2 separate regions of the Homo sapiens genome follow, and region 1 is linked to region 2. Evidence: fine-mapped expression QTL. A gene starts in region 2. The other region holds a variant in brackets. All regions are shown on one strand. Distances are between the middles of the regions. Region 1 holds the start of MIR1972-1 (microRNA 1972-1). Region 2 holds the start of PDXDC1 (pyridoxal dependent decarboxylase domain containing 1).

Region 1 (2,913 bases), 35 kb after region 2:
ACATGGCAGCTCAATTAAGCACCAGAAATTTCTTCTGAAGCTCCTACTTTTAATGAGTTAGCACTGTTGCCTGGATTTATGAATGGGCAGATTTTGAAAATGAGGTTCTTCATTGTCATCATGGAATTGAGTTCTGCTTATTTTCAGACATGCAGGTGATAAATCTCTCCTTAATGATTCCAGAAGGAAAAGGAAGGGATGGATTTTAGAGTTTTTTATTTCTTTTGTCAAGGTAGTTTTATTTTCTAGTTCAGGTACATCAGTGAGTAATAGTAGAGATACATTCTTGGCTGTTTTAGGAGAGTTAAGAGAACATTTCATTTAAATGTAAATGTTTAAAATCAAAGAAATGTTCCTGCATATGTACAGTTTTTACCTTTAATTTTGTTTAACTGATTTTTCTAGTCTTCAAGGAAAACTATTTGATTTTCACATCTATGATGAGAGAAAACAGAAAAATTGTCAAGAGTAAGAATTGATTTGACATTACTTTTGAGAGTTATCTGCTTCTTTTGTAAGTCATAATTTTTCATTTTATAGCTTTTATACTGGGCACCTCATTTTTTAATGATTTGTTTTGGTTCCAGGATGTTGCCTTCCTGGAGAAACTGATTAAAGATGATATAGAGCGAGGAAGACTGCCCCTGTTGCTTGTCGCAAATGCAGGTAGGTAGCATGATGCTGAATCTACCATTTTGAATATATAGGAGCGAGGCTACGTCCTCAGCCTATAAAAGATAAAGTCTTAAGAAATGTGTGTGTACCACATGTTTAAGATAGTCCATATCCACATTGTAGCAAAAACTGTAATAGTAAGGTTGGCTCGTTAGATTTTTCTTTAATCGTTGGTTTGTTTTGGAAGTTATTTTATGTGTGTGTATACTTTTTCATTTAGATGGTAAATGCTTCTCTATCTTCTCCTTCATGTACTTCTTTTCCCTGTTCTAAACTGAATTTTATTTTATTTTTTTGAGATAGAGTCTCACTCTGTTGCCCAGGCTGGAGTGCAGTAGCACAATCTCACCTCACTGCAATCTCTGCCTCCCGGGTTCAAGTGTTTCTCCTGCCTCAACCTCCTGAATTGCTGGGATTACAGGTGCATGCCACCACATCTGGCTAATTTCTTGTATTTTTAGTAGAGACAGGGTTTCACTATGTTGGCCAGGCTGGTCTCGAACTCCTGACCTCAGGTGATCCGCCTGCCTCAGCCTCCCAAATTGCTGGGATTACAGGCATGAGCCACTGTGCCTGGCCTGAATTTTTAAATGACACATTTAAGCCAGGTGTGGTGGCACATGCCTATAGTCCCTCTACTCAGGAGACAAGCAAGATGTTGGCTTAAGCTCAGAAGTTCAATACCAGTCTGGGTAACATAGCAAGACCCCATCTCAATAAATAAATAAAAATAATTGTACTGACGTTGTAAGATTGTTGTAAAAATTAAACAAGAAAATTCATAAGATGTCACACTTAAATATCTACCTTATAGGCGGCAGAGCAACTACCACTTGCTGCTCCATTTATCTCATTCAGCATCATACTTGAAATCTAAGACAGTGCAATAAGGCAAAAAAAATAACTGACAGATTAGAAAGGAAGAAATAAAACTTTGTTTG[C/T]AGGCATGATTGTATAGATAGAAAACTAAAGAAAAGCTACTGGAACTAATGATCAAATCTAAACCATTTTCTGGATTTTTACATACTAGCAAAGAAGAATTGGAAATTGAATTTTAAATGTCATTTATAATAGGATCAAAAAAGATGAAAAATTTATGGATAAATTTAACAAAATATATGCAAGATCTGTACATTGAGAACTAAGAATGTTACTGAGAGAAATTCAAGAAGACCCAAGAACGATATGCCATACACACGGGTTGGAAGACTAAGTATTAAGTCAGTTCTTCCCAAACTAATCTGTAGATTCAACTTGATCCATCTTAAAATCTCAGCAGGCTACAATTTCTTAATAGAACTTGATGAGCTAATTCTAAAGTTTATATAGAAATACAAGGGATCTAGGAACAGCCCAAGGGATTTTGAAAAAGAACAAAATTGGAAGACTTACCTTGTCATACTTCAAGACTTCTGTAAAGTAGCAAGTAAGACTGTGTGAGATTAACCAAAGAAAATAGAGAATTCAGAAATAGACTCATGTGAAGTATATGGACACTTCAGGTTTTTACAGATGCCTGAGTAATTCGAGGGAGAAAGGACCATCTTTTTCCATCAGTGGTCTTAGAGCTTGGATATCCATATGGAAAAAAACTGAATCTTAACCCTTATCTTATTCTCTGTATATATAAATATTAACTATAAATGGTTCATCAACCTAAGCATAGATCTAAGACAATAAAATGTCTCAAAGAAAATACAGGAGATCTTTGTGACCTTAGGTTACATTTCTTAGGATACAAAATATGTGAACCATAAATTGTACTTTATCAAAAATTAAAAGCATTAGCTGTTTGAAAGCCCCTATTAAGAAGATGAAAGGCAAGTTACAGACTGGGAGAAATATTTGCAAAACATTTTTTTCTTTTTTTTTTTTTTTTTTTGTCTTTTTCTATTTTTATTTTTTATGTTTTTGAGATGGAGTTTTGCTGTGCTGCCCAGGCTGGAGTGCAGTGGTGCGACCTTGGCTCACTGCAACCTCCGCCTCCCAGGTTCAAGCGATTCGCCTGCCTCAGCCTCCCGAGTAGCTGGGATTACAGGCGCACGCCACCGTGCCGGGCTAATTTTTGTATTTTTAGTAGAGACGAGATTTCGCCATGTTGGCCAGGCTGGTCTCAAACTCCTGACCTCAGGTGGTCCACCTGCCTTGGCCTCCCAAAGTGATGGGATTACAGGCGTGAGCCGCCACACTCAGCCAGCCACTGTCCCAGTCCTGTCTTCTTTTAAAATTTCTTTTTCA
Region 2 (2,913 bases):
CAAGGGTTTTTTGGTAGAAAATAATTTTATTAACATAACCAGGCAATTTACCAAATACAACGTAGATAGCTCAAAACATGGAGTTACTGCGCTGAAAATGTGACCCTGTTTACACAGATTTCGGGACGAAGAGTATAAAACAGGAGAGAAAAGGAGTAAGATTGTGGTTGTAGCGTCATCGCAGAGGTGAAGTGTTCCATTGATTGCCACTGTGGTAGTCTATATCAGTTTCCCACATTAAGGTGGGAGGAATCTACTAAGCAAATGTACGCCCTCCCCATTCGTTCGAAACACATTGCAGTAAAATTGCAAAAGTGGCCGGGCGTGGTAGCTCATGCCTGTAATCCCAGCACTTGGGGAAGCTGAGACGGGAAGATCGCCTGAGGCCAGGAGTTTGAAGCCAGCTTGGGTAACATAGTGAGACACCCCTACCTTCTCTATTAAAATGAGATTTTAATTTTTTTTCTCTTCAGTTCATCGGTTAACAAGATAAAAAAATTAATAAAAAATTAACTTTTTAAAACATTTAAAGTAAAGTAGGAGTGGAAGCAGTATGTGGACTCATGGGGCTTGGGTCTGAATCCTACCTAGATCGGCACTGCGAAATGGGGATAATGATCTCCTAGAGCTGCTGAAATAGGAAAATGGAAGAACAGCAGCTGATGTATTAATATTATCATTATTACTACTACCCATTACCTGACAAGTGATAATTGTGACATGAAAGAGGCTGGACCGGTTGTTACAACAATTTTTTCCGTCTAGAATTCGGCGGTAAGGTCTGAGACAACACCTCAGCTTAGATCAGTGCCTTCTCTGAACAGCGTTCACTAAGCAGCCCCCAACCCCAAAACCCCCAAGTCCCCGGGCGCCGAGGACGCTGCGAGTCCTGCGCATGCGCAAGGTTGCCCACTCGCTCACCGCCTCCTTGGCGAATGGCCTGTTCCATTCTCGAGGGATGCCGGCGGGAGGTGAGGCGGGAGACTTGGAAGCCTGGGCCCGGAAGTGAGGTGCGTCACTAGTATTTCCAGCCTTTCACTCCATGAATAGTACTTTGTGATTATTATACTTCTACCTTGATGATTGCAACAGGCTGCTGGAAAGAGTTTGGTGAACAATCCACCGGGCATCCTCCCCCCTTCACCTGCGCACGTTAGGGAGGGCCGGCGTGGCGCCCAGGTACGGAATCCCAGAGGGCTCCGCCCAGCGCTACGGGGCCCCGCCCCGCCGCCTCTCAACCATCAGGTTCGGCAGCCCGCGGCGCCGCCTGGCAGCTCCTCCTCTTCTCCGCCCCGCCGGCCGCGGGCGCGGGGGACGTCAGCGCTGCCAGCGTGGAAGGAGCTGCGGGGCGCGGGAGGAGGAAGTAGAGCCCGGGACCGCCAGGCCACCACCGGCCGCCTCAGCCATGGACGCGTCCCTGGAGAAGGTCCGTGCCGGGAGGGGGCGATGGGGACGGTGCTGCGGCCCGGGGCTCCCGCTTCCGAGGCAACTGTTTCCCAGTCGCGAGCTGCCATTGTGACCCGGACAGGGGGACGCGGGCTGACAGGCCCTGCCTGAGGAGGCCTCGCCGGGAGGGCGGCTGGGGCCCGGGCGCGTCACGGGGCCGGGTGTCTCTTGGGTCCCCGTGGGCCGAAGAGGCTGGGCGGGGTTCGGTGGGGGCCGCGACGGGCCCGGAGCCCAGGACTGGGACCGCGGGGCCGACCTTGGGCCCTGCCGAGGTTCCGCGAGTGGCCGGCCTGAGCTCGGCTGGCCCTTTCGGAGGACCGGGAGCTCTCCGTTGGCGGCCCCAGATGCTCCCGGAAAGAAGCCGCAGTTATTTCAGAGCCAGCTGCAAACCTGTAGGTTTTTCTTGGTCTCCGAGTTAGGAATGAAAATTGCCAAAGCAGTGGTTTTCCAACTTCAGCCTGAGTGGGAATCACCTGGGGCCTTTGGTAAAATGCGGAGGTTCAGTCCCGGGGTCAGAACCTCTGGGGGCGGGACCGGGAACTGCGTGTTTAACCGCCACCGCCCCGCTCCCACTCCGCCCCACGCAGGTGATTCTGATGCTGAGCCTGCGATCACCGGGCGAGAACCTCTGAGTTCCAGAAAGGGGTGGGTGTTGCGTAGATTGCGAATTGAGTTTTGGGGATCGCAGCTGCTCCACAACTTCCTGGCTCCCCCATTCCAGTGGCGAGGAGGGATCCCCGAGTCAACTCGAAATCCACTGGTAACAGAGCCTACCTCTGGTTTCCCCTTGGGGGAACGGCAGCGTGGTGTACCAGGCTGACTGCTCTACCATGTGAAACGGATTCTCATTGTCCCAGTGTTAGGGCTTGTAAATGGAAACCAGTTTGGGTTTCTTCACGGATTCCTGCTTTCGGTACCTGACATTCTGCCCTCCCTCAAAGCCCTTCTGTCTGTTCCAGCTTGGGAGTCTGCTTGTCCAATCCAGTGCATACCCGGTTTTTCATGCATGTGGCATTCAGGAGCAATGCTCGTGTTTTAAGACGGCTACATTTTAATTTTGAGCTGGTAGGAATAATATATTTTGTCTTTTTTCAAGGCAGCAGCTGCTGTAGATTTTGTTCACTTGTCACTGGAGAGTTGAAGGCAATAATTGTAAAGGTTGGGCCAGATGTCTTCATGTGCTCACAGTGGTATAGCCTACTCCTGGGTTGCTTAGCATAAATTGGGTGGAAGACAAGAAAAAGATAATATGGTTTTCTTGTGCCATCTCTGGGGTGAATGTTACGTGTTTTCCTGGCTGGGAATAAAGTCTTTCCGGTCGTCTGATTAGCAGGGTGTCTACCTTTTGGTACTTTGAGTTTGTCCAGATGAGTGGTTCTTAAAGCAGGGGGCAATTTATTTCCCCAGGAGACATTTGGCTATCTCTGGACATAGTTTTGATTGTCACAATGGGGGCAGGGAGGTGCT

What was found.
Region 1: its variant is fine-mapped to the expression of PDXDC1 in lymphoblastoid cells (GEUVADIS, PIP 0.95).

What each region holds. Positions count from the first base shown.
Region 1 is chr16:15,009,094-15,012,006 of GRCh38, forward strand. It overlaps PDXDC1 (pyridoxal dependent decarboxylase domain containing 1), which reads left to right. Exons shown (of 23, transcript NM_015027.4): 8 at 588-666. MIR1972-1 (microRNA 1972-1) reads right to left here and starts at 1,304; the gene lies at 1,228-1,304. The variant C/T (reference allele first, on the strand shown) is at 1,617.
Region 2 is chr16:14,973,795-14,976,707 of GRCh38, forward strand. It overlaps PDXDC1 (pyridoxal dependent decarboxylase domain containing 1), which reads left to right and starts at 1,232. Exons shown (of 23, transcript NM_015027.4): 1 at 1,232-1,426. The coding sequence starts at 1,406. RefSeq lists a silencer at 98-392 and an enhancer at 550-1,313.